Homo sapiens: one gene and its partners. The protein of the gene in region 1 purifies or fractionates together with the protein of each later gene. This does not show direct contact. Each region holds a gene or a part of one and is shown in the gene's direction. Other genes may lie near its edges. The genes, in order: ACOT8, COA7, OSBPL11, ARHGAP29, PML and UNK.

What was found.
Region 2: the proteins of ACOT8 (region 1) and COA7 purify together in Homo sapiens (co-immunoprecipitation; 2 studies listed by BioGRID and IntAct, with this or other methods). This does not show direct contact.
Region 3: the proteins of ACOT8 (region 1) and OSBPL11 purify together in Homo sapiens (co-immunoprecipitation; one large-scale study listed by IntAct). This does not show direct contact.
Region 4: the proteins of ACOT8 (region 1) and ARHGAP29 purify together in Homo sapiens (co-immunoprecipitation; one large-scale study listed by IntAct). This does not show direct contact.
Region 5: the proteins of ACOT8 (region 1) and PML purify together in Homo sapiens (affinity purification with mass spectrometry; 4 studies listed by BioGRID and IntAct, with this or other methods). This does not show direct contact.
Region 6: the proteins of ACOT8 (region 1) and UNK purify together in Homo sapiens (co-immunoprecipitation; one large-scale study listed by IntAct). This does not show direct contact.

Annotation. Positions count from the first base shown.
Region 1 is NC_000020.11:45,850,893-45,854,392, reverse strand, and holds part of ACOT8 (acyl-coenzyme A thioesterase 8), read left to right. Parts: intron 1-439; exon of another isoform or gene 440-470; intron 471-3,500. UniProt on the Homo sapiens protein: Catalyzes the hydrolysis of acyl-CoAs into free fatty acids and coenzyme A (CoASH), regulating their respective intracellular levels. Displays no strong substrate specificity with respect to the carboxylic acid moiety of Acyl-CoAs.
Region 2 is NC_000001.11:52,691,848-52,695,347, reverse strand, and holds part of COA7 (cytochrome c oxidase assembly factor 7), read left to right. Parts: intron 1-2,480; coding exon 2,481-2,621; intron 2,622-3,500. UniProt on the Homo sapiens protein: Required for assembly of mitochondrial respiratory chain complex I and complex IV.
Region 3 is NC_000003.12:125,578,498-125,581,997, reverse strand, and holds part of OSBPL11 (oxysterol-binding protein-related protein 11), read left to right. Parts: intron 1-1,957; coding exon 1,958-2,133; intron 2,134-2,958; coding exon 2,959-3,038; intron 3,039-3,500. UniProt on the Homo sapiens protein: Plays a role in regulating ADIPOQ and FABP4 levels in differentiating adipocytes and is also involved in regulation of adipocyte triglyceride storage. Weakly binds 25-hydroxycholesterol. Interacts with OSBPL9 to function as lipid transfer proteins.
Region 4 is NC_000001.11:94,203,085-94,206,584, reverse strand, and holds part of ARHGAP29 (rho GTPase-activating protein 29), read left to right. Parts: intron 1-901; coding exon 902-950; intron 951-1,386; coding exon 1,387-1,524; intron 1,525-2,590; coding exon 2,591-2,655; intron 2,656-3,374; coding exon 3,375-3,485; intron 3,486-3,500. UniProt on the Homo sapiens protein: GTPase activator for the Rho-type GTPases by converting them to an inactive GDP-bound state. Has strong activity toward RHOA, and weaker activity toward RAC1 and CDC42. May act as a specific effector of RAP2A to regulate Rho.
Region 5 is NC_000015.10:74,022,216-74,025,715, forward strand, and holds part of PML (protein PML), read left to right. Parts: intron 1-612; coding exon 613-1,193; intron 1,194-2,641; coding exon 2,642-2,712; intron 2,713-3,500.
Region 6 is NC_000017.11:75,819,306-75,822,805, forward strand, and holds part of UNK (RING finger protein unkempt homolog), read left to right. Parts: intron 1-378; coding exon 379-480; intron 481-614; coding exon 615-803; intron 804-3,171; coding exon 3,172-3,353; intron 3,354-3,500. UniProt on the Homo sapiens protein: Sequence-specific RNA-binding protein which plays an important role in the establishment and maintenance of the early morphology of cortical neurons during embryonic development.

The DNA of each region.
Region 1 (3,500 bases):
TAAAAATATAAAAAAATTAGCCAGGTGTGGTGGTGGGTGCCTGTAGTCCCAGCTACTCGGGAGGCTGAGGCAGGAGAATGGTGTGAACCCGGAAGGCGGAGCTTGCAGTGAGCCAAGATCGTGCCACTGCACTCCAGCCTGGGCGAGCACTCCAGCCTGGGCAACAGAGCGAGACTCTGTCTCAAAAACAAAAAACCTATGTGTGGTGGCTCATGCCTATAATCCCCGCACATTGGGAGGCCAATGCGGAGAATTGTTGGAACCCAGGAATTCAAGACCAGCCAGGGCAATAAATCGAGACCTTGTCTCTACAAAAAAATAAATAAAAGGAAAATAAAAGCAAAACCTATGCTAAAAAACAAACAAAAAAAACCCTCACTGTTTTCTTTCCTTCCCTGTTACCCCCAGAGCAGATGCCCTCATGTGTTCTGCGTAGATCCCCAGCTGAGAAGAGTTTGTGGACCTTTACAGTATGTGATTTGTATTAAGAAAACCATGGGGTTTCCCCCTTCATTTTGTAAATATGAAAGTTATCCCTGTAATGGTAAATACACTTTTTCATACTGTCCCGTGTCTCTTACTCCTCATCCCTGAGGAGTATTGATTGGCCCCCCTCTTCTCGGCCCCCAGTCACTGCTATAAAGTATTTGAATACTTACCTTGGGCTCAGCCAGGTTCTTATCTTTATGCTAGTTGGGAGTAAATATGTGCTTTGTTTCTTTAATTTGTTTGTAAGTACCAGCCTTTTGATATTGTAATCCTTCCAGCCTAGTGAAATACCTGGCTGTTTTCTTTTGTGTGGGTGGGGGCATTACTTGAACTCTGAATCTCTTCATCCTGTGATGGAAGAATTCAATGAGTCTTTGCCAGTAAAGTATCTAGTGCAGGGCTTGGCATAATCTAGTTTTCCATAAATATTATTAGTTTTTGATGATTAACTTATGGGAATAATTAAAATTTGCATGATACAGAGCATAGTTGTGTGCATTATCTTGTTTAGTCTTCATAAGTAAACATGGGTGGCAGGCATTCCTGCCATCATTCTTACCTAAGGAAACTGGGACCTGAAGAGGTTTGGAACCAGCTCCCACAGTGCCCAAGGAGGCAGAGCCAGGATTTGAACCTGGTTTATGTGTCTTTGAGTGCCAAACTCTTTCCTGCTTCTTTGCTTCGCTCTTGGGCAATAATTCTAAACAATGAGAGAGCTGCCAGGGTACCCATCCCAGGTTCTGGGGAAAAGATCCTCTTTCTTGGAAAGTCTTCATCCAGGAGCAGCGTGAAATGAGCTGTGTCCAAGCCACCATTTCAAAATAAATAATTATTTGGCCGGGCGTGGTGGCTCATGCCTGTAATCCTAGCACTTTGGGAAGCCGAGGCGGGCGGATCACCTGAGCTCAGGAGTTCGAGACCAGCCTGGGCAACATGGTGAAACCCAGTCTCTACTAAAATACTAAAAATTAGCCAGGCATGGCGGCATGTGCCTGTAGTCCCAGCTACTCAGGAGGCTGAGGTAGGAGAATTGCTTGAACTCAGGAGGCGGAGGTTGCAGTGAGCTGAGATCATGCTACTGTACTCCAGCCTGGGCGACAGAGCGAGACTCTTGTCTCCATCAAAAATAAATAAATAAATAAAAATAATTATTTGTGCCCTTGCTTGTGTCTTGAAAGGCTGCAAGATAGCTAAAATAATTGGTAGTTATTATGGGAATATTAAAAGTCAAAGGACATTAGGCCAGTAGTAATGGGATTTGGGAGAAGCGATCATGTCAAAAAATTTGGCTAAGCCATATTGTTGCAGTTTCATACAAGGTTTAGTTCTGAGCTTCCTGGCTGCAAGGCAAAAAGGGGAGAGCTCTTATCTGTTTGTGGTGTGACTCTGCCAGCTATATCAGATATTAAAACCAATGCTGTTTTTTGGCTGGGCATGTGGCTTATGCCTGTAATCCCAGGACTTTGGGAGGCCGAGGCGGGCAGATCGGCTGAGGTCAAGAGTTCGAGACCAGCCTGGACAATGTGGCGAAACTCCATCTCTACTAAAAAAAAAAAACACACACAAAAATTAGCCAGGTGTGGTGGTGCACACCTGTAGTCCTAGCTACTCAGGAGGCTGAGTCAGGAGAATCGCTTGAACCCTGGAGGTGGAGGTTGCAGTGAGCTGAGATCGTGCTACTGTACTCCAGCCTGGGTGACAGAGCAAGACTCCATCTAAAAAAAAAAAGGAAAATTAGCTGGGCGTGGTGACCTTAGCCCGTGATCCCAGCTACTCGGGAGGCTGAGGCTGAGGCTGAGGCAAGGAGAATTGCTTGAACCCGGCGGCTGGAGGTCGCAGTGAGCTAAAACTGCGCCACTGCACTCCCACCTGGGCGACAGATCGAGACTCCATCTCAAAAAAACAAAACAAAAAAGAGATGTTTCAATTACATTTTAAAAATAAAAGATGTTATGGGGGAGGGGGAGGGTTGGTCCTTGGCCATTTATCAAATCAGTTCTTTTTCTAAAAGCCCAGGAAAGAATGTGAATTAGTTGGGTTTTTGTTTTGTTTTTAGTTTTTCTCTACAGAGGTAAATTTAGAGCTTGAAGAATTCAGAACAAGGTCAGCAAACATTCTAGAAAGGGCCAGATAGTAAACATTTTAGGTTTTGCCAGTGAAAGCAACTATAGACAATATGTAAACAAATTAGCATGACTTTATTACAAAAAAATTGTATTTTAAGGCAACAGTTTCCTCATCTGTACAATGGGGGTAAGAGTGGCTCTACATAGTTATTGTGAGACCAACATGAGAAAACATACCCTCCTGTCCAATGCTGTCAGGCACCCTGCATCACTCCATAATCATTAACTCCCTTCAATATGCCTCAGGGCCTACCTGCTCTGTTCCAATAACAATTTTCAAGAATAGGGCTGGAACTCATTCACACTGAAAGGTAGACCAGAGTACTGAAGTTTCTGTGATCCTCCTCAGGAATCTGCACTTTAGCTTACCTGCAGACCAAGGATTGGATTAGAGGTTTTTTTTTGTTTTTTCCCCCCAAGTTTGGTGGTAGGGAGGAAGACTTCATTCCCAGTGTCTGAAAGCAGACTGCACAAGTAACTTTGTCTAGTGTCTGGACTCTTGGTAAGCCCTTCTCAAATGCCTTTAACCTTGAGGAGCTCGCACTCTGATAGAAGTGCTGCTGGTGGCAGTGCCTGATAACAGAGAGCTGAGCAAGCCAGTTGACCTCAGACAGTGATGTTTATTGCTGTTGATTGAGCCCTGGTGCCTGGTTGACTCCCCATTTGGATCAGAGTGAAGGAAGCAACACTTCTCTAGACCTGCTTCTTTCATCTGAAGGTTGAAAGTCATCCCCAAGATGTCTCATGGCCCAGATGTCAGGGTTCCTCAAGGTCAGCCTGACTCAGACAAAGTGAGAACTTCAGGGAAACCAGGGAAGTTCTCTTCCTCTCCAAATCTTCCCTCACCTGCTTGTTGTTGGCTGCCTTATCCCTGGCCAGTGCCTT
Region 2 (3,500 bases), on another chromosome or scaffold:
GATTACAGGCGTGTTCCACCACGCCTGGCTTTTTTTTTTTTTTTTTTTTTCCCTGAGGCTGAGTCTTGCTCTGTTGCCCAGGCTTGAGTACAGTGGCACGATATCAGCTCACTGCAACCTCTGCCTCCCGGGTTCAAGTGATTCTCCTGCCTCAGCCTCCCAAGTAGCTGGAATTACAAGCGTGCGCCACCAAGCCTGGCTAATTTTTGTATTTTTAGTAGAGACGGGATTTCACCATGTTAGCCAGGCTGGTCTAGAACTCCTGACCTCGAGTGATCTACCCGCCTTGGCCTCCCAAAGTGCTGGGATTACAGGCATGAGCCACCACACCTGGCCTGAATCATATTACTTATTTTCTTGAAACCCTCCAGTGGTTTACTGTTTCAGTTGGAAAAAATCATAACTCCATCCTATGTTTCACGAGGCCTATGGTCTGGTCCCTACCTTCCTTCTTCATTTCCTGACCCTCCTCCTTGGTTCAGCCATGTTGTACCTTATTCGTGCCAAACTTATTCTTTCAGGTCTTTGTATTTACTGTTCCTTGTGCCAGGACTTTGTGCCCCTGCCCATTTTATTGTCTTTTAATTTCATTTTTTATTTTTTATTTTTAAATTTTTTCCAAATCCCTGCCCCACTCCCATTTCATTGTCTTTAAATAGCTAGTGCTTTCTTGTTATTGAGGTCACAGTCCTTGGTGAGCCCCTCCCCAGTGGCTCAGTCTTTGTTAGCCATTCACCCAAAGTTGACAGCAAACAGTTATCCTGTTTTACTTCAGTCATAGCATTTATGTATTTATTTGTATAAATTTAAGGGGTACAAGTGCAGTTTTGTTACATGGATATATTGCCTGGTTGTGAAGTCTGGGCTTTTTTTTTTTTTTTTTTTTCGAGATGGAGTTTTGCTCTTGTTGCCCAGGCTGGAGCGCAATGGCGCTATCTCGGCTCACCGCAGTCTCCGCCTCCCGAGTTGAAGTGATTCTCTGCCTCAGCCTCCCGAGTAGCTGGGATTATAGGCATGCGCCACCATGCCCGGCTAATATTTTCGTATTTTTAGTAGAGACGAGGTTTCTCAATGTTGGTCAGGCTGGTCTAGAACTCCCGACCTCAGGTGATCTGCCTGCCTCGGCCTCCCAAATTGCTGGGGAAGTCTGGGCTTTTAATGTAACCAACCATCACCCAAATAATGCACTTGTACCTGTTAGGTAATTTTTTATTCCTCACCATCCTCCCACCCTTCCCAATCTCCAGTGTCTATTATTCCACACTCCCTGTGTCCATGTGTACACAGTATTTAGCTCCCACTTATAAGTGAGGACATGCAGTATTTCACTTCCTGTTTCTGAGTTGTTATAACATTTATTACTGTTTGAATAAATTTTGTTCATTTATTTATTTATTGTATTTCCTCCCCTAGAATGTAAATTTTAGGAGGGCAAATGAGTATATTCTCAGCATCTAGAACCATGTCTGGTACATAGATGCATAGAGATGCTCAAATATTTGTTGAACGAAAATGAATGAGAGATATATGTTGTCACTGGGGGTAAAGAAGAGGGGAGAGAGATTAAGGAAAGAGGTTTACTGGGACTGGGAGACTGCCAAGGAAGTAGAGCCTATTTTCATTAGAAGCTGCCGCCTCTACTCTTTCTCTTTGGCTTTCATGTTCCTACCCTGGCTGAGGAGTAAGCTATAGTCATTACAGCACCCTTTTCTTTTTCTTTCTTTCTTTTTTTTTTTTTTTTTAAGACAGAGTCTCGTTCTGTCACCCAGGCTGGAGTGCAGTGGCGTGATCTCGGCCCGCCGCAACCTCCGCCCCCTGGGTTCAAGCGATTCTCCTGCCTTAGCCTCCCAGGTAGCTGGGATTACAGGTGTGCGCCACCACACCTGGCTAATTTTTTTATATTTTTCCACTCCTGGCTAATTTTTTTGCATTTTTAGTAGAGACAGGGTTTTACCCTGTCCAGGCTGGTCTCGAACTCCAGACCTCAAGTGATCCTCCTGCCTCAGCCTCCCCAAGTGCTGGGATTACAGGCATGAGCTACCGAGCCTGGCCCAGCACCCTTTTCTTGCTGCTACAAAGACTAGCCTATGAGCCTTTTAGGTTTTCACTGTTTTTACCATTTAACTTCATGAGAGATTCCAAAACTAGCAAAGTTTCAATCATGGAAGTCAGTGGATACTTGGGCGTGGCTGACAGGGAGCAGAAGGGCTGGTGAGTGGTAGAGCCAATGCAGGGGCTGAGGTCTCCCCAAGCCATGCATTGCTCAGTCCATGGCTGTGGGGAGACAATGCCATTTGTAGGAATGGCTAAACACCACCTACATTCTTTGTGGTAAGGCCAACTTGCCACACATCAGGAGGACAGGGGCTGTCTTAAAAGACATCACCTGGCCTGCCACACCTGGGCACCCCCTACCCCCAAGTCCCCACTGCGAGCAGCAGCCCCAGACATGAAGAACAACCCTTGCCCTCTTCTCGCAGGTTGCTATCGGCTGGTGGACTATTTGGAAGGGATCCGGAAGAATTTTGATGAGGCTGCCAAGGTGTTGAAGTTTAACTGTGAAGAGAACCAGCACAGTGATAGCTGCTACAAACTGGGGGCCTACTATGTGACTGGAAAAGGTAAGGAGGGCCTGCCTTTTGGGTCCTTGTCATTGATAGCAGTGCTGGCCTCACACCTGAGCCCCATGATAAGCTCTTGCAGAAGGGTCTCGCAGGCATTGGGAAAGTGCATTGTAGGAAGATGGAGAGGTAGGAGTTCAGCAGAGTGATGGGGGGAAGAACACAGCCTTTCAAGTTAGGTAAACCTTAGGGAATGCTATTGGCAAGTAGTGGGACCTTGAGCCAATCACTTCGACTCTGTGCCTCAGTTACATCACCTGTAAATTGGAGGGAAATAGTACTTGCTTTGTAGGGTGGTGAGGATTAAGTAGGACAGCATAGGAAAAGGCATCAGCATGTGCTTGGCACAGAGTAAGGGGTCAGTAATTATTGTCTTCCTTCTGTCTTTTCTCCTTGTACTCTAATTGTAGTTATCACTGGCATAGTGTTTACATTATCTATGGCTAAATAACAAAATAGTTATTTTTGTTCACCTCAATAGTTTCTGTGGGTCAAGAATTTGGGAGTGGTTTAGTGGGGGTACCTCAGGGTATCTCATGAGGTTATAGTCAAGACATTGGCCAGGGAGCCAGGGCTGGAGACATTGGAAGGCTTGACTGAAGTTGGAGTTTCCAATTCTAAGATGACTCACTCTGATGGCTGGTAGCAGAGGCCTCTAGTTCCTTACCAGCTGTTATTGGGAGAGCTCAGATCGTCATGACATGGTTCGCTCCATGGGCTGCTTGAGTGTCCTCATGACATGGCGTCTGGGTTCCCCCAGAGTGAGTAATTTAAAGGAGACAACAAGATAGAATCCACAGTGTCTTCTATGACCTATCTTTGGAAGTCACACACTTTTCATTTCTATCACATATTTATTAGATGTAGCCTACACTAAGG
Region 3 (3,500 bases), on another chromosome or scaffold:
TTAATTAATTAATTAATTATTTTTGAGACAGGGTCTTGCTCTGTTGCCCAGGCTGGAGTATAGTGGCATGATCTCAGCTCACTGTAACCTCCACCTCGGGCTGAAATCATCCTCCTGCCCCAGCCTCCTAAGTAGCTGGAGCTACAGGCATGCACCACCACACCCATCTAATTTCTGTATTTTTTTTTGTAAAGACAGGGTTTTGCCATGTTGGCCAGACTGGTCTCGAACTCCTGGATTCAAGCAATCTCAACTCATCCAGCCCTTTTTAGAGTTACTTTTTTTTTTTTTTTTTTTTTTTTGAGATGGAGTCTCACTCTGTCACCTAGGCTGCAGTGTAGTGGTGCAATCTCAGCTCACCGCAACCTCTGCCTCCAGGGTTCATGTGATTCTTCTGTCTCAGCCTCCCAAGTAGCTGGGATTACAGGTGCACGCCACCTCGCCCAGCTAGTTTTTTGTATTTTAGTAGAGACGGGGTTTCACCGTGTTGCCCAGCCTGGTCTCAAACTCCTAAGCTCAGGCAGTCCACCCGCCTTGGCCTCCCAAAGTGCTGGGATTACAGGTGTGTGCCACCGTGTCTGGCCTAGCGTTCCTTTTTTAAAAAGGGGCCAGATGAGGTGACTCACACCTGTAATCCAAGCACTTTGGGAGGCCGAGGCGGGAGGATCGCCTGAGTTCAGGAGTTTGAGATCAGTCTGGCCAACATGGCAAAACTCCATCTCTACGAAAAATACAAAAATTAGCTGGGCATGGTGGTGGGCGCCTGTAATCCCAGGTACTTGGGAGCTGAGGCATGAGAATCGCTTGAACCTGGGAGGCAGAGGTTGCAGTGAGTCAAGGTGGTGCCACTGCACTCCAGCCTGGGCAACAGAGCACGACTCCATCTCAAAAAAAAAAAAAATTATTACACTACTTAAATTGGAATTTCTGAAATGTATTTTTGAAAGTAGTTAATCTAGAACCAAATCAGAATTTTTTTTTCCAAAGTGTATTAGTATTTCATCAAATTCTTTTCCAGAGTGTATCAGCATTTCATCATTTAGTTTCAAGGTCCTTATGTTTCAGCATCTCCAATTGCAGCTTTTTCATTTTTAAACAGGAGAAGTAATCTTTAGTTTTGACTTATTTAATGATTCATTCACAAAATCTTTTTTACCCTGTTATTCTTGTTGTATATTTCACTAATTCTTAAATCACAATGCATATCTTGCCTAGTATATCTTGCCTTAACCTCAGAGCTCATATTTTGATTTATTTCCGGTGAATTTTAAAGAAAAATTTTCACTACCATTTGTCCTTTGGCAGTTTACCCTCTGTTAATGAATTCTGGGGAAAAATCTGTCTCTGAAAGGATATGGTATCTTTGCTTCCTTTTGTGCATTAACTGATAGGCCTCTTAATAAATGCCTCTCCCTCAGCTGAAGGGTTTATTATATCTTTTATTAAACTCATTCAATTTTTTTTTTTTTTTTTTTTTTTTTTTGAGACGGAGTTTTGCTCTTTTTGCCCAGGCTGGAGTGCAGTGGCTCGATCTTAGTGCAGTGCAACCGCTGCCTCCCAGATTCAAGCGATTTTCCTGCCTCAGCCTCCCGAGTAGCTGGGATTACAGGCATGCACCACCACACCTGGCTAATTTTGTATTTTTAGTAGAGATGGGGTTTCACCATGTTGGCCAGGCTGATCTCGAACTCCTGACCTCAGGTGATCCGCTCGCCTCTGCCTCCCAAAGTGCTGGGATTAGAGGCGTGAGCCACTGCGCCTGGCCTAACTCATTCGATTTTTAGTAATCTTCCCTGCTGGAAAATTCAGTGTAGTGTTTCCAGGTACCTCTTGAAATGCTTTTAAATTTTATTTTTAAGAGCAAAACCCTGAAATGTGTAAGTGATTGAAGTTTGCTTTGCTTTAGTTTGCTGAGGGAAAATGTTTACAAATTATGGATTTTAAAAAATCATTACAGGTTTTTTGTTTTAAACAATGAAGCTGGGCTGTTGGAGTACTTTGTGAATGAACAGTCTAGAAATCAGAAACCTAGAGGAACTTTGCAGCTTGCAGGAGCTGTAATATCACCCAGTGATGAGGATTCTCACACCTTCACTGTAAACGCTGCCAGTGGGGAACAATATAAACTCAGAGGTATGACCAAAATATGAGAATTAATACTGTGATTTTCCTCTTTTTTTGAGAAGTTGGTGTCTTACATGCTTTCATATGGGCTTTGGAAATAGAAACTGCTGTCATCAGTGATGTAAATACAATATTCTGAACCTTGGAACTGCTTTGAGAATTTATGAAATCTTTTGTAATAAGTAACTGTTTTCAAGTGGGACAATGTATGTTTGTTTAGGACTGGCCCCTCTGAAAAACGGTGTAGGTGAAACTCTGATTACTGAAAATCTAGAAACATAGACTTTAAATGATATTTTTTATGTATTTCACCCCTTTACTTGGTTTAGTTTACGTGCCCTTTTTGCAGTTTTCAGTAACTAATGTACATTATTGGGATTTATTATAATGTCATTCATTAAAATAACGTATAACTTCTGTTAAGATAAATTTAATTTGTGTAGAAGTTTTTTATTTAATGAATACACAAAGTATAATGGTAATCCTAAGTGAGCGTGCTCCTGCAGATCTGAAAGTATTGATTATACATCAAATAATTAAGGGGTTATTTCTTTAAATAAGAACCTATTTTTATGAGTTGCAACATGTCAGTCTCTCATCCTCACCTCACTGCATGTAATTTCTCCTTTTAATGAAGTAACTACATCCAGCTACTGTGTTCCCTAACAACGTTGGTGCTTTGGCCTCTTTCCTGCCTCCCTCCAGTCAGGGAAGTTTGCTCTAGTGAGAGTAAGACCAGTATCTGCTTTTCAGTGATCTGATCTTCATACTGTAGGCAATTAATTGTGTTCCAGAATAAATAAATATAAAATAATTTTTACATTCTTTTAACAGCTACAGATGCAAAAGAGCGACAGCACTGGGTTAGCAGACTTCAGATATGTACACAGCATCATACTGAAGCTATTGGAAAGGTATGTAGATTTATATACAATATTAATATACAAAAATGAGGAAGGAATATTTTTTATTTTTTGCCTTTTAAAATTGAGATACTATTCATATACCGTAAAATTCACCCTTTTAAAGTATATACGTATAATCCTGTGGTTTTTAGTATATTCACAAGGTGGTTCAACCATTGTAACTTTCTTTTTTTTTTTGAGACGGAGTCTCTCTCTGTGGCCCAGGCTAGAGTGCAGTGGCGCAATCTTGTCTCACTGCAACCTCTGCCTCCCGGGTTCAAGTGATTTTCCTGTCTCAGCCTCCCAAGTAGCTGGGACTACAGGCACACACCACCACACCCAGCTTATTTTTGTACTTTTAGTCAAGACAGGTTTCTTTACTAAAAAAAGTTGTTTCTTTACTAAAAATGTTGGCCAGGCTGGCCTCGAACTCCTGACCTCAAGTGATCCGCCCACCTTGGCTTCCCAAAG
Region 4 (3,500 bases), on another chromosome or scaffold:
GTACCATGCCTTGCGCTAGGCCTACATCATCTTAATTCTTAAAACAGTCTTTTGAAAGTAGTGTTCTTATCCCTCTTTTACAGAAGGACTTACAAAGTTAGTGAACTTAAAATATGTAGCCCAGTGTCATACAGGTAATAATGGAGCTGGACTTCAGACCCAGGTCTCCTCGATCAGTTTTGCATTGAATCCCTGTATACCCTGTATTGCCCAATTTAAATCGATTAAATTTGTTTAAGATCTCAAAATTTTGGTAAATGATGTTTTCCAGCACAATGCAATAAAGTAGCACGAGTCACATGTAGTTCTTTAAATTTAATTATAATAGTTAAATAAAATTAAAAATTCACTTCCACCTCCTAGTCACACTAGCCACTTATTAAATGTTCAAATAGCTACATGGAGCTATTAGCTACTTTATTGGACAGTACAGATATAAAACACTTCCATCATCATAGAAAGTTTTGTGCTAAGCTATGTAATAGACTTTCAGAGACATGCTTATCATATAGTAAAATGATAAAAGATGACTGGAAGAGGCAGATCTGTGTCTTCTGTTTAGATAGCAATATGTTTGCATTGCTTCTCTAACTTCTTGACTAATATTTTTGTTATCTGCAAAATTTAAAGTTTTGAATGGATTCATTAATGTTAACTAATGCTGTTAGTAACAACAGTGAGGTTGTTCATTCTTGGATCTTGGGAACTCCTGTTGTAAAAAGCTATGAAATTCTTATGAAGTGTTCTGGCACTTAAACAGACTTCTAAGGCCTTTAAGTTTTAAATACTTGAAATTCTTTAGCAGGAATTATGTCAGAGTAACAAATTGGGGCAAAAAAATTCTGAAGCAAAGATTTGTGTTCTTCTCTAATTTTAAATTTATCTTTTTCCATGTTGTAAGTCGTTTGAAAATGTTTCTGTGGAATCAGTGGACTCATCCAGTGAAAAAGGTAATGCTCAAGGTGTTTATAACTTTTCACAAACTTCTTGTAGTTACTTTCTATGAATGTCCTGGATTAATCTCTTCTTGCTTAGTAACCTAGTGTATTCATTTTTAATGCAAAATGATATATAAAGTTTTACATATAGAGCTTAAGGGAAATAACCTGCTAGAGTAGATAGATAATATGAGATATAGACTGATCAAGAATTGTGTAAAGCTTTTAACTTGATGGATAATAGAAATATATTTTAAGATAAAAATACATTATAGTTTGAAACCATTTTAAGTTTAAACTCTGGCCTTTTAATTGTAAATTTGTCACTTGTATTTTTTTTAAAAACCAGTTTTTATTGACTAGTATCTTAGGATCTCAGTGCTTCTTTGTTTGGAGTTATGATGTGATCACATTTAACATATACTTACCTTGATATTTTTGTTTTCAGGAAATTTTTCCCCTTTAGAACTAGACAACGTGCTGTTAAAGAACACTGACTCTATCGAGCTGGCTTTGTCATATGCTAAAACTTGGTCAAAATATACTAAGAACATAGTTTCATGGGTTGAAAAAAAGCTTAACTTGGGTGAGTTGCCTTTTAAAGCATCTGATTTAGAGTATAATAATTAAGTTGTTTCTAACTCATTTTTTACAGATTATGAGTAATAGAATTCCAAATTAGTACCTGTTTCATTATAATGAATAAAACCATTATCCAGAAAAGACTCTTCTTACACTAGATGGAATTAGTGAGTATTTACTGTGGACCAACTACTAGACCTAGGGACACAAAGACAAATAGAATACTGTCTCTGCCTTCAAAGAAGTCATACTCTAGTGGGTAAGAGGAAATGCAGTCAGATAATATGGTCAGGAGATAACAGCAACAATAGATGTATGAGTAGAAGGCAATGGAAACAGAGAAGAAACATTTTAATAGCTAATATTTCCTCAGTGTTTTACAGTTATCAAAATGTTTTCGTAGTCATTATCTTATTTACTTCTTACAAAAACTCTGAGAAGTAGGCAAGACAAGAATTGTTTTTCCTATATTACAGCTGAGAGAGACAAGACAGGAGATTTCTTAAGGTCATATAGCAGATTTGCTTAAAGTCATATAGCATAACTGGAAGAATATAGAATCTACCCAAAGCCTATGCTCTTTCTACTGTATTATTTGCTTATAATAGAGAATGCTAATCAGAATCACCTGAATAGTCTTGTAGAGGGTCAGTACACAAGCCTAGGTCCTATCCTTCAGAGAGGTGAAATGGAGGCAAATATATTCTGAAAGAGTTTCCCAGTTGATTCTGATGAGCACTCACAATTAAGAAGTGCTGCATTAAGAGCTGTACATGGTGGCTTATGCCTGTAATCCCAGCTATTCCTGAGGCTGAGGCTGGAAGATCACTTGAGCCTGGAAGATCACTTGAGCCTGGGAGTTCGAGACCAGCCTCGGCAACGTAGTGAGACCATGTCTCTTTTTAAAAAAAAAAAAAAAAGGAAGAAAGAAGTATTGCTGTATTATATCTTGATACACACTAGTATTTGTGATCACTTCTTAATTGTGGAATTACTACAAGTAATTTTAGAGTATACAGGGGGAAAAATAAATTGATTTTACCTTCTGATACCCTCTTTGAACTTTTCAGAATTGGAGTCCACTAGAAATATGGTCAAGTTGGCAGAGGCAACTAGAACTAACATTGGAATTCAGGTAAGTGTTCTGTGAACTTCGGGGGTTCTATAATAAGAAACTACTCATGAACTCCCAATAATTTGCAAAATCAGAATATTTCAGTTAATATAGGAAAGCACTTAAATGCTGATCTTTTTATTGACAAAATTATTTTAAGTTTAGATGGATGTCCATTATGAAAAAATCTAGGAAATACGCTTTTTTTTTCGTCTTAAGACAGGGTCTCACTCTGTAACCCAGGCTGGAGTGCAGTGGCGTGATCTCAGCTCACTGCAACCTCTGTCCCCCGAGGCTCAAGCGATCCTCCCACCGCAGCCTCCTGATGACCTGGGACTATAGGTGCCCACCATGCCCTGGCTAATTTTTGCATGTTTTTGTAGAGATGGGGTTTCACCATGTTGCCTAGGCTGGTCTCAAACTCCTGAGCTCAAGTAATCCACCCACCTTGGCCTCCCAGAGTATTGGGATTATAGGCATGAGTCACTATTCCCAGCCAGAAATTTACAATTTTATACAAATACTGATTGTCTTGATAGCTACTACTTTTGCTAACCAGTTTTATGATTAATTATAATTAATTTTCTTCTATATTTTTCTCATAGTCATGTTTTTGACTAGTTATTTTTCTGGGGGCAAAAGTCTAAACTTAGTTTCCCTTTTTGAAGAAGGGTAGTGATGTGTTTGGAATTCTAGTGCCATTTCTATTGTAAAATTTACTTTTCAATTTTAAATTTTAGGAGTTCATGCCACTGCAGTCTCTGTTTACTAATGCTCTTCTTAATGATATAGAAAGCAGTCACCTTTTACAACAAACAATTGCAGCTCTCCAGGCTAACAAATTTGTGCAGGTAAAGATTAATTTA
Region 5 (3,500 bases), on another chromosome or scaffold:
CAAAGTGCTGGGATTACAGGCGTGAGCCACCGCGCCCGGCCGATTTCTTTCTTTCTTTTTTTTTGAACAAACATCAGCCCCCAAAATTATTGTAGATATCTAGGTCAATCATTTAACATGTTCTGTTTCTTCCTCTGGGAAATATGTATAACGACAATTCTCACTCAAGGGGCTCTTGCAAAGGTTAAGTGGCATGGCTGACATGTGTCAAGTCTGTACCATCCTGCAAGCAGCAGCCCAGTCTGGCATTTGTGTAAGGCGGTTTCAGTGGAGAGATGTGTGGAAGGGTGCACCCCACGATGCTCACCTGGTGCTTCCTCGGTGGGGAAGGGAAATTCAGAAGTGGTGGAAAGAGATGATTGTCGTTTCGTATATCTTTGTATTGTTTCCCGGATGTTGAAATTGTTACTGTAGTAACTTTTTATACTCATGTGTTATTGGTAGTTTGGATACTATCACCATAACCACAAACACTGAATTAGGAAAAGCAGAAACCTAGAAACATGCCATGATTCAAAGTCTGGTATTTTTGGAAGAGGAATTTAATAACGAACGTTTTAAGAGGAAAAAGTCAGGAGAGTCCTAACCCAGGCCAACCTTGTGTGTCCACAGCATCTACTGCCGAGGATGTTCCAAGCCGCTGTGCTGCTCGTGCGCGCTCCTTGACAGCAGCCACAGTGAGCTCAAGTGCGACATCAGCGCAGAGATCCAGCAGCGACAGGAGGAGCTGGACGCCATGACGCAGGCGCTGCAGGAGCAGGATAGTGCCTTTGGCGCGGTTCACGCGCAGATGCACGCGGCCGTCGGCCAGCTGGGCCGCGCGCGTGCCGAGACCGAGGAGCTGATCCGCGAGCGCGTGCGCCAGGTGGTAGCTCACGTGCGGGCTCAGGAGCGCGAGCTGCTGGAGGCTGTGGACGCGCGGTACCAGCGCGACTACGAGGAGATGGCCAGTCGGCTGGGCCGCCTGGATGCTGTGCTGCAGCGCATCCGCACGGGCAGCGCGCTGGTGCAGAGGATGAAGTGCTACGCCTCGGACCAGGAGGTGCTGGACATGCACGGTTTCCTGCGCCAGGCGCTCTGCCGCCTGCGCCAGGAGGAGCCCCAGAGCCTGCAAGCTGCCGTGCGCACCGATGGCTTCGACGAGTTCAAGGTGCGCCTGCAGGACCTCAGCTCTTGCATCACCCAGGGGAAAGGTAAGCACGCACGCCACCTTCCTGGGCGGCCTGTGCCTCTGCTGCACCCTAGGGAAGGCGAGTCAGAAGAGATCATCTCCATTTGACAGAAAAGAAAACTGGGTGTTTATTCAGTCTTTGGGGGTTGGTAAGGTCTTAGGTTCCAGGGCACAGGATAAGGGGGAGATGAGGCCCTGACAAAGGGCTGCAGCCACCCAGAGGGGACACATTTTACTAATTTACAAGACTCTGTGGATTGACCTAGCGATGACTCATGGGGAACACGTGAAAGTTGAAAAACTGCAAAGCTGAGAATCAGACCCAGTATCATTTTGGCGCCAGAGGGACCAAGCACTTCAGGAGGTTCTCTTAAGCCACCGGTGTCTCGGAACAGAGAAGTCAATTGGGACCTGGGGTTACGGTAGAAGGGGGCTAAGAAAACCTCCTGGGGATGGTTGGATGCTTACCCAAAACCATACAGTGGCTCAGTGGAGGAGATCCCTTGTCTGCAGGATGACCTGCTGTCTGCCAACCTTTGCGCGCCCTGCCTAGTGTTGGACGCTTGAGAGGTAAGGAGACACAGACTAGTTTCTGATCTCAAGGAGCCAGAGCCACTTCACGTAGCTGGAGAATGAGACAGTGCTCAGCTCTGCAATCCAAATCCGGGAGATGTAGCAGCTGTGTATTAGCTGGAACAGGGGGGCTTTCAAAATAAGGGGTAGGGGGAGTGTGCCAGAGAGTCTCCAGGAGTCTTTGACTAAATCTCCAAGCTGGAATGTGAGCTCTGAGCAGCTAGTATAGGATGCCCTTACTGGGAAAGGGGAGGGAGGCTATGGAATCTGAAGGCACCTGGGTAGGGTGCCAGTGACAAAGAGCTTATTTACTTCTCCTGGAGCTGGACATGGGTCATGAAGGATAATCTTAGAGGGCCTGGACCTGTGCCTTCTCCACCTAGGTAGTGAATGTCACCCATATTAAGGAAATGACCCCACAGAGTTTACACAGCTTGCCTTGGGTGTTATAACTGGGCAATAGCAGAGAGAAGGGTTATTTTATTCTGAAGCATAAGAGATTTAGATTTAATAAAAACCAGGCTGCAGATAAGGAAGATCATGGAGCTCTCACTATATGTAGAGAGTCAGTGAGCCGGTAGTGATGGCTTTATGATTGCGCACACTTAGCCTTGCTGTTGGCTCAGAGATGGAGAGAGGTACACTTGGGGTTTGGAGCCAAAAGCAAGCACTCTAATGCCACCTCCTTTTCCCTTCTGGCTGGGTTCCTGCCCACTGCATTCGAGAGAGCTCTCCTTCCAGCTGCCCCTCCAGGGAGTTGTCCAGTGCTTTGGGATGCCCTGGAAAATAGGTATCCTGGAAAAGCAACAGGGACCTCCTCTCTATCACTGTCCCAGGTCAGGATGTCCCTTACCAGCATGTCCTTGACCTGCCTGTGACCTTCTTTGTGTTCTACAGATGCAGCTGTATCCAAGAAAGCCAGCCCAGAGGCTGCCAGCACTCCCAGGGACCCTATTGACGTTGACCTGGTGAGATGGGTTTGAGGTCTGAAGGGGTGGTGGTGGGGCCCAGCAGGTCAGGCAGGTTGTGAGTCCTGCTGTCCCTGTGTGTGCAGGGAGAGCGTCTGAGTGAGGGACAGCAAGTGGCTGGACTGGAAATTTCAGTGAGAGGAAGTAAAGGAAGACATTAAAGAAGGGTTGGCTGGCTAGCTGGCTCTGACTCTAGGCTCCTAAATGCCAAAGTTGCTCTTGATGGGCCATGAGCCAGGTTCAGTGGGGGTTAGATGTGGGGTAGACAGTCGGCCACAGATCAGGGCTGCTGCAGAGGGAATTCCAGCATTAGATGGCATATTAGTGCCTTCCAGCCATGAGAAACTATGGTTGTCAGATGTATGGTTAGATATAGGGTCAGCAGTCCTGAGGGATGTGCAGATGTCCTCTCCCCTCCTACACCCTACCCCCAATGTGGGAGCCTTCTCTTGGAGTCAGAATAGGTGGGCCTTCCCCTGCTCTTTCCCCACAGATGGTTCTTGGAAAGGAACGGGGAATGGTGCCAGGAGTCAGATTTCGATCCCAGTTGCCCGGGTTCTGCTGGTGTGATTCCAGGGCCACCATACATGTAACAAAGCAGACTGTCTCAGGGTTCAAGGTATCCATGTCCCATCTAATGCTGGCATTCCTTCTGCAGCACCCCTGACCTGTGGCTGTCCAGCTTTCATGTACACATCTCCAGGGACAGGAAGCTTGCTCATTCTAGAGGCAGCTGCTCCCAACTCTGGACTGCTCTGACTTAGAAAGTGCTTTTCCGAGTGGAAATG
Region 6 (3,500 bases), on another chromosome or scaffold:
ACCTGCTATACACCAGCCACTGAGTGCCCAGAGACCCGCCCACCCCCACTGATCCCGGGGCTGAGACCCTTGAGTTGTAACATCAGGGGACAAGACCCTTGTCCGAGGCAGGGACCCTGGATGGGGATGTGATTTCTCCTGGAAGTATCAAAGAAGATTCAGAAAGGAGAGGCATTTGGGTTGGACATGACTGGCAGACGGTGTCAGAAGTCAGGAGTCAGGATTGGCATAGGAAGCAGCTGAAGGAAGGGCACAGGGGCTTGGGAGAATACGGACCCAGCGTAGCATGGGCGTGAAGATGCAGCGTGGGCAGTAGACGAGGTGGTCAGGGTCAGATAGTCCCTCGGGAGGTCACATCCCACTCTTCTCTGTCCCTAGAGTCTGCTTTGGATGACCTGGACCTGAATGAGTTTGGCGTGGCCGCCCTGGAGAAGACTTTCGATAACAGCACAGTGCCCCACCCAGGAAGCATCACCATCGGTACTGGGTGTGGGTGGGCAGGGCAGCCTGGAGGACTCCTCGGGTTCCTGCCTGGCTCAGGCCCCTTGCTCTGTGTGGCCCGCCTGGCTTCCGCTGCCCTCACCCAGCCCGTCCTCCCCGGGCCTCTCTTGCAGGCGGCAGCTTGCTGCAGAGCTCTGCACCCGTGAACATCCCCGGCTCCTTGGGCAGCTCTGCCTCCTTCCACTCAGCATCCCCGTCCCCTCCCGTCAGCCTCTCCTCGCATTTCCTGCAGCAGCCCCAGGGCCACCTGAGTCAGTCGGAAAACACATTTTTGGGAACCTCAGCATCACATGGATCTTTGGGTAAGAGAGGGAGTGGTTCACTCAGGAGAACTGGGGCAGGAACCTGCGCCTTTAGGAGGTGCCTCTGGCCACCCCATCTACGGCATATCAGCTAGGCTGGGGGTTAGGGCAGAGGCCTTGGGCGAGGAGGCAGAGTCAGATTCCTGTCTGTGTGACCCTGGACAAGTGATTGAGCCTCTCTGCCTTAGTTTCCTCTGCTGTGAAATGGGTATAACGGCAGCATCCACCTCCTAACGTTGTGAGCATTGAATGGAGTAATGGGGCTGAAGTGCTAGGCACGAGGCCAGTGCAGGTGAGAGCAGGGGTCTCAGTTGCCAGGGCTGGGCCTGGTCTCTTTCACAGCATGGTTCTGTTCTGCCCAGTCACCCCAGGCTCCGAGAGGCTGGCTCGCACCAGCCAGGTTCACAGGGGACCAAGGGAGAAGCCAGACAGGTTAACCCCTGGCTTCGGGTGCCCTTCCTGCCGGGCAGAGGCTCCAGGGAGGCCCAGGGCTGGCCCAGAAGGCTGTTTGCCCACAGAATTAGAATGGTATGGAATGGGGGTTTCTGAGGGCACTTCAAGGTTTAGTGGCTAGAAGAATGGCACAGAGGCCTGTGCCACTGCGGGCCGGCTGTGCATCTCCTCTTGTGTGTGTCAGGGGATGTTCCTGAGGGCGGGATGGGAAGCACATGGCACCACCGCTCTCACTCTCCCCCAGCAGCTGCAGACACCAGGAGCTCCCTCCCCGAGAGTGCCAGCATTTTGCTCGGGCCCAGGGAATGAGCCCTTCAGAGTTCTGATTGGGTTTGGTGGCTTCCCTTATCTCATTCCTGATCCCAGAACAGCACATGGATTTCTCAGCGCCTTCCAGTTTGAAGAGGCTGTTCTCTGTTACGTTGATTCTGTCAGCTTTAGGTGCTTGGTGTTGCATTTTTCGGACTTGCCCCATATTCGGATAGGATCTGTTTTTTTTTTTTCGAGTAGGGTCTCAGTCTGTCACCCAGGCTGGAGTGCAGTGCAGTGGCATGATCCTAGCTCACTGCAGCCTGGAACTCCTGAGCTCAGGTAATCCTTCCACATCAGCCTCCTGAGTAGCTGGGACCACAGGCGTGCACCACCATGCCCAGCTTCTGGTGGCGTCTAGACTTAGCTCCACTTACTGGCCACACACTCCTTCCTGCACCATGTGACTATTGAGCACAGGTGTATTGATACAGGTGTAAGTGCAACAGTCCCTGCTGTCCAGCAGCTGTGGCCAGTGTGGGAAGCAGAGGTGCCCAGCCATTGGGATCCTCCTGAGAATCATAGAGGGGCCTACCTGGACAGCAGAGTCAGGAGAGCTTCTCCAAGGGAGGAGGAGAGATGGGTGGGACAGGAGAGCTTGCTGCAGGGCTGGTCTCATGTGGGTGGGGTGACCCTGAGGTCTTCCTCTGGGATGGGGCAGATGGCTCAGACAGTGCATGCCACAGGGTCTCCGCACAGGACCATGTCCCTCCTCTGTGGGTGCACTTGTGTGTCTCAGAGAGCAAAGCGTCTTAAATCTGGTTCTGGAACATCCTGGTTGGATTAGTGGGAAAGGGAGCAAGGAAGAAGTCACCAGAAAGTACATATGGGCAGAGTGAGGCCAGAGGTGGATATGGGTCCTTCTCGGAAGCCCGGGGCTGCCCTGGGGGCCAGAGCAGGGGGACCTGATGTTAGTAAACATCTGTTGAGCGAGTGAGCAGAGGGCAGCTGGGTTGGCGGTGGGTGGGAGGCTGTGCACGCAGCATAGTTGACTGGAAAGCATAGGCCTTTGGAACCACACTCCCTGTCTGTGTCCTGGCCCTACCACTTACAATTTGTGTGATTCTTGGTAAAACATTTTATCCAGGGTCCTTGTCTGTAAAACAAGGGGGATGGCCCCAAGGCTCCCTGAGCTCTTCCTGCCCCAGCTCTGCCATCCGATGAGGCTCTGGCCTGTCTTTTCCCCTTTATCTCTTCCTGGGCCTCACATCAGGCTGCAAAAAGGCCCTAGCCTAAAAGTGAAGCCACAATCATAAATTGCCACTATCGGGGGCCTGGGACTGCTCTCACATGCAGTACTTCCTGAGTCCCCTGAGTTACCCGGTGAGGCCAGTGTGGGAGTCCCATTTCCCACATGAGGGTGCTGAGCCTCGGAAGTTGAGTGGCACCAACTAGCAGGTGTCACTCAAGGTTAGGTCTGACTCCGCCCACGCCACCTGCACCTTCACAGCCTTCCTGTCCCTGCAAAATTCTCTGGCCTGACACTAGCTGGAGCCTTGCACACCCATCCAGTGGACAGCCAGTCCCTGGAACCTCTGAGGCAGGGCTGGCCAGGGCCTGGGCCCAAAGCCCTCCGGAGCTGATGTTCTTCCCCTCCTTGGGGCAGGTCTGAACGGGATGAACAGCAGCATCTGGGAGCATTTTGCCTCTGGAAGCTTCTCCCCGGGCACTTCCCCCGCTTTCCTATCAGGGCCAGGGGCTGCCGAGCTGGCCCGACTTCGGCAAGAGCTGGATGAAGCCAACAGCACCATCAAGCAGTGGGAGGAGTCCTGGAAGCAGGCCAAGCAGGTACCAGGCCCCGTGCCTGCCGGCCTTCCCCAGTGCCAGGTGGCATCCAGCCCAAGACCTTCCTTCACAGAGTGGGCGTGGGGTGGGGGAAAGCGGGGGCTGGAAGAACAGAGCAGAAACTCAGTTTTGTTCGCTCGCTCTCCCCCT